Linked DNA regions of Homo sapiens. The protein of the gene in region 1 purifies or fractionates together with the protein of each later gene. This does not show direct contact. Each region holds a gene or a part of one and is shown on either strand. Other genes may lie near its edges.

Region 1 (3,651 bases):
GTATTTTAGGGGGTGGGCGGGGTGCATTGTGTGTGCAATTGTATGTGTGTGCCCCCACACAGGAAAGATGGCTCTATTCCCTGTCCCAGAGCCCTATGCTCCCAGAGTGTGGACATTCAGGCATGGCAGTTGTCAGCAGCACAGAGGGGTGACGTGGGGCAGCCGAGAGAGTTCTGGCATCTCAGGTCCCAGGTTCCAGTTCCAACCTGCCACCTGCTCACCGTGCAGCCTTGGTGCCTGCTTCCTCACCCCACCCCAGCTGGAGGGCGTGAGCGCAGGCACAGTGCTTCCTCCCTGCTTGCGGCTCTGTGCCTGAGGAAGGCGGTTCTGCGGCCCCATCCTGCTGTCCTGCCTGGAGTTGGAGGGTGTGTGGTCCTTTCCTCTGGGCGGATGAAGGCTCCCTTGAGGGGCGGCCTGGCTCTGGGGACAGGGCCAGCTCCCACGAAGCTGCAGCTTCTCCATGACTGGCAGAGCGAGCCTGGGCCGAGTGGCTGGCAGCAAGGCCCTTCTCCGCCTCTCTTCCCGGCAGGCACTTCCCTCGTCCAGCACCTGATGACCGTCCTCATCCGCAAACACAGCCAGCTCTTCACGGCACCGGTCCCGGAAGGGCCCACCTCCCCGCGCGGGGGCCTGCAATGCGCAGTGGGGTGGGGCTCCGAGGAGGTCACCAGGGACAGCCAAGGAGAGCCCGGCGGCCCCGGCCTGCCCGCGCACAGGACCTCTTCCCTGGACGGGGCGGCCGTGGCGGTGCTCTCCAGAACAGCCCCCACGGGGCCGGGGAGCCGGTGCAGCCCTGGGAAGAAGGTGCAGACCCTGCCCAGTTGGAAGTCCTCCTTCCGGCAGCCGAGGTCCCTATCGGGAAGCCCGAAGGGGGGCGGCTCATCCCTGGAGGTGCCCATCATCTCCTCCGGCGGGAACTGGCTTATGAACGGGCTGTCCTCCCTGCGCGGACACCGCCGGGCCTCGTCGGGAGACCGGCTCAAGGACTCGGGCTCCGTGCAGAGACTCTCCACCTACGACAATGTGCCCGCGCCGGGCCTGGTCCCCGGCATACCCAGCGTGGCCAGTATGGCGTGGTCCGGGGCCTCGTCCAGCGAGTCGTCGGTGGGGGGCTCACTCAGCAGCTGCACGGCCTGCCGCGCCAGCGACTCGTCTGCCCGCAGTTCCCTGCACACCGACTGGGCCCTGGAGCCCTCCCCGCTCCCCAGCAGCAGCGAGGACCCCAAGTCCCTGGACCTGGACCACAGCATGGACGAGGCGGGCGCGGGTGCCAGCAACAGCGAGCCCAGCGAGCCGGACAGCCCCACCCGGGAACACGCGCGCCGCTCCGAGGCCTTACAGGGGCTGGTCACTGAGCTCAGGGCCGAGCTGTGCCGCCAGCGGACTGAGTACGAGAGGAGTGTGAAAAGGTAACTTGCTGCCCCGTGGAGCCTCCTGTGACGGGGCGGAGCCTGCAGGGAGAGCCGTGCTCTTGGCACATGGGCGTCGGCCCCTAACCTCTGGGCCGCTGGCCCTGGAAGCCAGCCTCAGAGAGGGGAATCCTAGCTCTGGGAAAGCCCTAGGACTGGCAGACTTGGCACACAGTCAGTCTGGCACGCAGTCAGTCTGGCACGCAGTCAGCGCTGCAGAGGCCTGCTGACTCCACGCAAGTGGGAATGCCTGCCCAGCCTGCCGGGGACCTTTGCTGCAGGGGTGGAAACAGAGTCAGTGTGCAGTCTGCAGCCAGGGAGGGGGCGGCCCCTGGAGGCAGGTCCCAGGCTTGTCCCAGTACAAGGGCTCATAGCCTGGATGCTGAGTGCCAGGAAGTGCCCAGGCCCCAGGTCAGCCAGGCTGGAAGTGAGGACCCCTTCCTTGATGGGATCAGAATCCAGTTTCCCTGCTGAACCAAGCCCTCGTGTCCGCCCTTGTCACAGGATGGTTGTGCTGCACCCTGAGGCTTACAATCTCACTAACAGAGGGCCAGAGTTCCAGCCTCCCATGAGGACCGGGGTTGCCCTCTGCAGTGAGGAACCTCAGCTCCTGGAGACCAGGTTCTCCAGCGCAGGGCGTTTCCCTCAGCATCTCAGACTCCTTGGTCCCTCTGGCTGCAGGTCCCCGTTAGCTGGCCGACCTGTTCACCTGGGTCCCACCCACTAGCAGGGAATTCCTTTATCCATTAGAGGCAGTGGATGGAGGTGGAAGGCATTCCTGCTGCCCACTCTGAGCCTGTGATTTCCACTGGGAGCTGGAATGGCAGCCCTTGCCCTTTTGCTCTGCTGACAGCTGTTCCCTGGGTGATGGAGAGTGCCAGGCATGTACAGGCACCATGTCTGCAAAAGGAAGAGAAGGAGAGGGACCTTGAGGGCAGAGGCCTCTGCCATGGGGGAAGTCACAGCAGGCAGTGCCTGAGCCAGGGCTGGAAGGACCCATAGGATGGAGCCGAGAAAGGAAATAGCATCAGTAGAACCCAAGGGCCTCCAGAAATATAGTAGAAGATGCTATCTGCTGCAGATGAGCTCACAGACCAAACTACAGGGTACATGGGAACTCTTACCATACAGAAGGCTGTCCATGCAGAAGGCTGGGCTGGACCAGCTGCGCCAGTTGTGTGCTGAGTGCCTGGAGCTCCTCTGGCCTGCTCTGAGGCCTGGTTTCTCAAGGGAGATGCAGGGCTCTTTGACTCCAGGTCAGACTACTTGGATTCTAGTCCCAGCTCCACCAGGGATTGGCTGAGTGTCCCTGGCAGGATCTTTGGGCCCCAGTGACCTCACCCATTTGTCCTGAGTATTAAGTGACTCACAGTGGATGAGAGCGCTCGGGAAACTTTGCTGCTCGCATTGACTCCTGCCTGGTGGCTGGAGGTAAGATGAGGTTCCCAGAGGAAAAGGGATAGCAGTGGTAGCCCTTGTGGAGGGACTGTACTCGCTAGCAGAGTGGTCTGGGTCGTTGTCTTGGTTAGAGGGAGGGTCTAGAGTGAGGAAGGTCTCTGAGCACAGGAAGGAAGGTGAGGGCATTAGCACCTGTCCTGTCCAGCAGGTGATTGGGGAATGTGTGTCCTGTTCTCTGGAAGTATGGGCCATCGGGTGGGGGGTGGGGTGAGGCTGGCCTTGTCCTGGCTCCCAGGACTCTGGTCAGAGCCCCTCCCCAGGGCCCTGCTGGGAAGTCAGCCTTCCTTCGTGCATTCCCAAAAGAGAACCTGTTTTCTGTGAAGTACCAGATGCTGTGCAGGTGGCCACAGTTGGGGTGAAAACTGATCAAAATCTCTGTCCCCATTCTTATTTGGGTTGCAGGGAGACAAAGACCATAAGCACGATACATTTTTAAAAATACACGGTGTGTTAAAAGGGAGATGAAGGAGGGGAACATAGAGCAGCATGGAGGGGAGCGGAGAGGAGCCTCAGGGTAGAAGGTTGGAGGGCCCTGGGAAGGAGACCCCAGAGCTGCAGCCAGCACTGACCCCAAGACCCCTGTAGTGGGGGAGAGTCAGGGGCTGGGGACTGGAGATGTGTGGGGAGGGGGCAATGGGTGGGGCCTTTTGGCCTGGGCAATGCTCTGGTTTTTCGTGGAGTGAGATGAGAATGAAGTGAGAAGCCGCTGGAGGGTCTTGGCACATTGGGCACTTTGACAGGTGCACCTGGGTGCCATGCCGAGCAGAGCTTGCCAGGGGACAAG
Region 2 (3,651 bases), on another chromosome or scaffold:
ACCTTTCTCATAAACTTTCAGAATATTTCACATTTTTCTTCTCCCAAAGATGGTCCTGTGTTAGTCACCCTTAAACTTATCTCACCCCTCTTAAAGAATTTAAGTTCAACACGGGCAAGAAATATCTATGCTATCTTCATACTATCTACATAGAAGGCTTGCACATAGTGTACATTAATATACTGTTTTAATTTACTGTCACGATAATTTACAAACCAATGTGGAAAACTGATAAAATTATATGTGAAGTTTCAATATGAGTACTTAAGACTGTCAATTATGCATTCATTAAATAAACTTTATTAATTAACTAATCTACAAATAATACATGTGAGTCCTAAACAGCCTAACCACCATTTCAATTCTTAGACAAGCTGGTAGTGTTTTCTTAACATAAATTAGCTCTCTAGATAACACATTTCAAAAATATTATTAATAATGCAGTGTTAGCAGTCATTAACATCAATTTCAAAGAGTTCAACGCATCACAATGAATTTCAAAGTAAAAATAAACTTAACAGAAATCCTTTCAAAGATGCAGAATATTGGTACTATGTAAACAAAAACTAAATGTTACATAATTTAAGTCAGAAAAAGACTTACTCTGCAGCTAGCCAAGCAATGAACTTTCATTTTGGTTTAAAGTGCATGACCTATCACTTCACCTAAGTCACAAAAATTCATCTCTCAGGCAGTTTTTCTTAACAGCTTAAGATATTGGCCAGGTGCGGCGGCTCACACCTGCAAAGCCAGCACTTTAGGAGGCCATGGTGGGCTGATCACGTGAGGTCAGGAGTTTGAGACCAGTCTGGCCAACACGGTGAAACCCCACCTCTAATAAAAACACAAAAATTAGCCGGGTGTGGTGGCAGGCACCTGTAATCCCAGCTACGCAAGAGGCTGAGGCATAAGAATCACTTGAACCTGGAAGACCGAGGTTGCAGTGAGCCGAGATCACTCTACTGCACTCCAGCCTGGGGGATAGTGTGAGACTGTCTCAAATTAAAAAAAAAAACAAAAAGTATCTAGAGGTGGCAGTCAAATGCTCTCTAGTTATTTCAATTTGTAATTGATTCGACAGAAAGAACTATTTACTGAAAAAGAAAACCAGAACTTTAAAAGTGCCTGTTTATGTATTGCTGCAGTTCTAATTTGTGACCAAATATGCAAATATGTTCTATAATCTTAGTATATCTTTATTACCAGGCACAAATCAAAACTTTAGGAAATACCAAGTATATAAGACTTTGTCCACGTAAAAAATTAAGACTGCAAGTGTTCAGAAGACAATCTTCCAAACTAGAAAACTCTTTAAAACACAAAGCATGACATTATTTCCATGGCTACTTTCTTTTTTTGTTTGTTTTTGTTTTTTGAGACAGGCTCTCATGACTTTTCTAACCAAAACACTAGCCATCTTTAGCACTGGAAATGAATTTACAGGTTGAGCATCCCTAATCTGAAAATCCAAAATCTAAAACTTTTTGGGTACCAACATGACACTCAAAGGAAATGCTCATTGGAGCATTTTGGAATTCAGATTTTCAGATTAGGGATGCTCAACTGGTATGTATTCTGCAAATATTCTGAAACCCAAAAAAATCCCAAATCCAAAACACATCTGGTTCCAAGCATTTTGGATAAAGGATACTCAACCTGTATGCCTTTAAGTGCCAGCAAACAAAAAACACACATAAATGAGAATGTTTTTAATCAACATCCAAATATTACAATTTAAAAAAGCCACCTCTAGAACTGACCTAATAATTTCCCCTACCAAACACGCCAGCAAACCAAATTTAAGAAAATATGTTTCAATGGATCTTAAACTACTTCTATTATCAAAAAAATTTAAAACACCAACTGTTTTAATGCTAATATGTCCTACGGAAAAAAGCACATACATTTTTAAGTGATATACAATCTATAACTTCTAAGTATTTTGTATAATCTTTCTACTAATAGAATTACCAAAAAAATTTCCAATAAGAGTATTTAAGAAAAACTTAAAAATAAGATACTTTGTTCAAAACTGTGTATTTTAGCAATAGTTCCCTGACGCAGATAAGATTCCCCAGTCCCCTAGCATTATTACTATAACTATACTTGGTAGTACTACTATATTTAAACTTACTACATTTATGGTATATATTCGTATATATTCTACTTTAACTCAAATCCTTACCCTACTTAAAAAAAAAAAAACCCAAAAGGTTTTCAAAAATGTACTAAAAAAGTCACAAGTTAATTTCTGTTAAAATATTTTGCTTAGTTTTCGATAACTCCACTGAAATTTTAAAAATAAGAATCTTGAATTATTACATTACCAGAAGATTAAGGGTCAGCATTCAAGAGCACTGTTCAAGATCACCCTATATCACAAGAACTCTAATTACGCAGGCTCTAGCTGTTTACAACCTTAAAGACATTACCAAAAAATAATACATTGTATTAACTACCTTATTTTTTTAATCCAAAACCCCAGGCATTGTATATCAAATGGCCATCCTACAAACAAAAAATTCTTTCAATGACTCTAATATAACTGAATCTGACAAAAACATTCGGGAGACGATGAGAAATCAGTGGTTTGAATAAACTGCACACCTGGAAAAGGAATACACATATAGATATGTACATACGTATACATACGCATATGCATATATATACATATATGTGTATACGCATATACATACGTATGTATATACATGTATATATGTATACACGTATACGTGTGTATATACGTATGCGTATACGTGTATATACGTATTCATATACGTGCGTATATACGTATACGTGTGTATATGCGTATATGTATATGTGTGTATACGTATATGTATACGTGTGTATATATGTATATGTACACGTGTGTATATATGTATACGTACATATGTTAAGGGACAAGTAAGAGACATATTTAATGCTTTCAACTTTCTAAAGCTTTTAGGTCAAGAGTTTTTTTTAACATACAAATGTGAATTTTAAAAACTTGAAAGAAAATCCAATAATATACATAGGAATAAGAATTTTTGAAAACAAGTAGTAATAGCTAAATTTCTGCCAGAAAGGAAAACGTTATACAAAGTGCAGACTAAATTGGGGCCGGGGGGTTGGGGGTGGGGGGGCATGGCAGGACAAAAATCAAAGCTAAAAAGGGAATTCTGGGAGTTATTCAATTCCATTATCTGCCCTCAGGTAAGTAGCCTAAACCTGCCCAGTAAAGGAAAGCCAACTCTTAAGACTTTCAGGGAATAAGAATTCTGAAACCAACATAGCTCAACATTCCACAAAAAATAAAAATAAAAAACAAAAAAATACTGCTTCGAGGACTGTTAAAAGAAGGATGAAACTAAATAATTCAAGACTTCCTACAGCAGGACTCCAGCTCATTCACTTCATTCAGAACCCAATTCAAACAGAGGGTGCGAAGTTATATAATGTCAGGCTTTACATTACACACCCCACTGGTATGTTCAGGCTCACAAAGATGCAACCAAGAACTATATGCGGTTGCAAGCACATATTACAGAAGGTTTTATTTTAATGTTAAGGCTGATGAATCTTGTCCTAAGCAGGTAGGACACCTCACAAGCACTGAGTCTGAAGCAGTGAAGATTTTTTTTTCTTTAGTTTAACAAACTGCTTAATCGT
Region 3 (3,651 bases), on another chromosome or scaffold:
GCACAAGAATTGCTTCAATCTGGGAGGCAGAGGTTGCAGTGAGCCGAGATCATGCCACTTCACTCCGGCCTGGGCAACAGAGTGAGACTCTGTCTCAAAAAAAAAGAAAATGCCAGGCGCGGTGGCTCATGCTTATAATCCCAACACTTTGGGAGGCCAAGGCTGGCGGGTCACCTGACGTCAGGAGTTCAAGACCAGCCTGGCCAACATGGAGAAACACCATCTCAACTAAAATGCAAAAATTAGCTGGGCACGGTGGCGGCTGCCTGTAATCCCAGTTACTCGGGAGGCTGAGGCAGGAGAATCGCTTGAACCCGGGAGGTGGAGGTTGCAGTGAGCCAAGATTGTGCCACTGCACTCCAGCCTGCGTGACAGAGCGAGAATCTGTCTCCAAAAAAAAAAAAGAAAGAAAATAACAAGTGTTGGCCAGGATGTGGAGGATGCAGAGAAACTGAATTGAAACCTATATTACACAGTATGCTAGGACTGCCATAACAAAATACCATGGAGTGGAAGGCTTAAGCCACAGAAATTATTCTCACAGCTCTGGAGGCTGGGAGTCCAAGATCAAGGTGTCAGCAAGGTTTGTTTTAGGTGAGGTCTCTCTCCTTGGCTTGCAGGCAGCCCCCTTCTACCTCTGTCCTCATGCAGCTTTTTCTCTCTGTACACGCACTCCTGGTATCCAGTCCTTTTCTTACGAAGACAGCAGTCCTGCTGGATTAAGGTCTCATCCTTATATCTTCTTTTTTTTTTTTTTTTTTTTTTTTTGAGATGGAGTCTCGCTCTGTCGCCCAGGCTGGAGTGCAGTGGCGCGATTTTGGCTCACTGCAAGCTGTGCCTCCCGGGTTCACGCCATTCTCCTGCCCCAGCCTCCCCAGCAGCTGGGACTACAGGTGCATGCCGCCACGCCCGGTTAATGTTTTGTATTTTTAGTAGAGACGGGGTTTCACCGTGTTGGCCAGGATGGTCTCGATCTCCTGACCTTGTGATCCGCCTGCCTCAGCCTCCCAAAGTGCTGGGATTACAGGCATGAGCCACCCGCGCCCAGCCCCTTATGATATCTTCTAACTTTTTAATTTCTCTGTAAAGGTCCTATTTCCAAATACAGTCACACTGGGGCTTAGGGCTTCAACACGTGAATTTTCAGGGGGACACAATTCAGTCTATAACAAAACCTTTGTACACTGCTAACAGAATGTAAAATGGTGCAACCAGTGTGGAAAACAGTAAGGCAGTTCCTCAAAAAATGATACATAAAGCCTGGGCAACCTAGCGAAATCCCACAGCTACAAAAAAATAAAAAAATTAGTTAGGCATGGTGGCATGCACCTGTAGTCTCAGCTACTTAAGAGGGTGAGGTGAGAGGATAGCTTGAACTGAGAAGGTCAGGGCTGCAGAGAACTGTGACTGCACCACTGCACTCCAGCCTGGACAACAGAGCAAGACCCTGTCTAAAAAAAAAAAAAAAAAAAATTGGCCGGGCGCGGTGGCTCACGCCTGTAATCCCAGCACTTTGGGAGGCCAAGGCGGGCAGATCATGAGGTCAGGAGATGGAGACTATCCTGGCTAACACGGTGAAACCCCGTCTCTACTAAAAATACAAAAAATTAGCCGGGCGTGGTGGCGGATGCTGTAGTCCCAGCTACTCGGGAGGCTGAGGCAGGAGAATGGCAAGAACCCAGGAGGCGGAGCTTGGAGTGAGCCGAGATCACGCCACTGCACTCCAGCCTGGGCGACAGAGCAAGAATCCGTCTCAAAAAAAAAAATTTAAAAAAAAATTACACATAGAATTACCATTTGCTCTGTCAATTGTCGATTCCATTTCTGAGTATATATATTCCCAAAAGAAATGAAAGTAAAGACTTGATATTTGTGGCTGGGCGCGGTGGCTGACACCTGTAATTCCACCACTTTGGGAGGCCGAGGCAGGTTGATCACCTGAGGTCAGAAGTTCAAGACCAGCCTGCCCAACATGGCGAAACTCCTTCTCTACTAAAAATAAAAAAATTAGCTAGGCATGGTGGCGCACATCTGTAATCCCAGCTACTCGGGAGGCTGAGGCAGGAGAATGCCTTGAACCCAGGAGGCAGAGGTTGCAGTGAGCCAAGGTCGCGCCACTGCACTCCAGCCTGGGTGACAAGAGCGATACTGTCTCACAAAAAAAAAAAAAAAAAAGATATTTGTACACTGATATTCATAGCACCATTATATTCACAAGAGCAAAAAGGTGGAAACAACCCAAATGTCCATCAATAGATAAATGGATAAACAAAATGTGGTATATATGTATAATGGAATATTACTCAGCCTTAAAAAGGAATAAAATTCTGATACATACTACAAGATGGATGAATCCTGAAGATATTATGCTAAGTAAAATAAGCCATACACAAAAGATCAAATATTATATGATTCCACTTACATGAGATACCTAGAGTAGTCAAATTCATAGAGACAGAAAGCAGAATGGTGATTGTCAGGGGAGGAGAGAATAGGGAGTTACTATTCAATGGGTACAGAAACTCAGTTTGGGAAGATGAAAAAAGTTCTGAAGCTGGATTTTTATTATGGTTGCACAAAAAGAAGAATGTACTTACTACTACTAAGTAGCACACTTAAAAATGGGTAAAAAGGTACAAACAAGCAAAAACCAAGAAAACACAACGAGATACCACTTCACACCCATTAGGGTGGCTATCATCAAAACACACAAATAAAAAACCACATATACACACACAAATTTATCAAAAAAGGAAAAACAGAAAATAAGTGTTGGGGAGGATGTGGGAAAATTGGAACCCTTGTGTATTACTGGTGGGAATGTAAAACGATGCAGCCATTGAGGAAAACAGTATGGTGGGTCCTCAAAAAGCTAAACATATAATAACCAAGTATCAACTGGGTGCAGTGGCTCATGCCTGTAATACCAGTACCTTGAGAGGCCAAGGAGGGAAAATGGCTTGAGGCCAGGAGTTTGAGACCAGCATAGGCAACATAGGGAGACCCTGTCTCCACAAAAAAATTAAAATAAAAAAATTATGGGCCAGATGTGGTGGCTCATGCCTGTAATGCCAGCACTTCGGGAGGCCAAGACAGGAGGATCACTTGAACTCAGGAGTTCGAGACCACCCTAGACAACAAGGCAAGACTTCATCACAAAAAATAAAAATTAAACAAAAAAATTAGCTGGTTGTGGCAGCCCATGCCTGTAGTCCCAGCTACTCAGGAAGCTGAGGCGGGATGACTGCTTGAGCTCGAGTTCGAGGCTGCAGTGAGCCATGACTGTGCCACTGAACTCCAGCCTGGGCAACAGAGCAAGACCCTGTCTCAAAAAAAAATAAATAAAATAATTAATAATAATAATAATTACCATATAGCAATTTCCCTTCTGGGTATATACCCAAAAGAATTCAAAGCAGGGACTCAAAGAGATATTTGTACACCAATGATCACAGCATCATTATTTACAATAGTCAAAAGGCAGAAGCAACCCAAGTGTCTGCTACAAATGAATTAATAAACAAAATGTAGTGTACACACACAACGGATTAAGCCTTAAAAAGGAATGAAATTCTGATACACAGTACAACATGGATCAACCTTGAAACCATTACACTAAGTGAAATAAACCAGACACAAAAAAGGACAATA

What was found.
Region 2: the proteins of ARHGAP22 (region 1) and KDM6A purify together in Homo sapiens (affinity purification with mass spectrometry; 2 studies listed by BioGRID and IntAct, with this or other methods). This does not show direct contact.
Region 3: the proteins of ARHGAP22 (region 1) and RBM6 purify together in Homo sapiens (affinity purification with mass spectrometry, with the first as the bait; one large-scale study listed by BioGRID). This does not show direct contact.

Annotation. Positions count from the first base shown.
Region 1 is NC_000010.11:48,448,019-48,451,669, reverse strand, and holds part of ARHGAP22 (rho GTPase-activating protein 22), read left to right. Parts: intron 1-62; coding exon of another isoform or gene 63-316; exon of another isoform or gene 317-529; coding exon 530-1,409; intron 1,410-3,651.
Region 2 is NC_000023.11:44,876,090-44,879,740, reverse strand, and holds part of KDM6A (lysine-specific demethylase 6A), read right to left. Parts: intron 1-3,651. UniProt on the Homo sapiens protein: Histone demethylase that specifically demethylates 'Lys-27' of histone H3, thereby playing a central role in histone code. Demethylates trimethylated and dimethylated but not monomethylated H3 'Lys-27'.
Region 3 is NC_000003.12:49,942,999-49,946,649, reverse strand, and holds part of RBM6 (RNA-binding protein 6), read right to left. Parts: intron 1-3,651. UniProt on the Homo sapiens protein: Specifically binds poly(G) RNA homopolymers in vitro.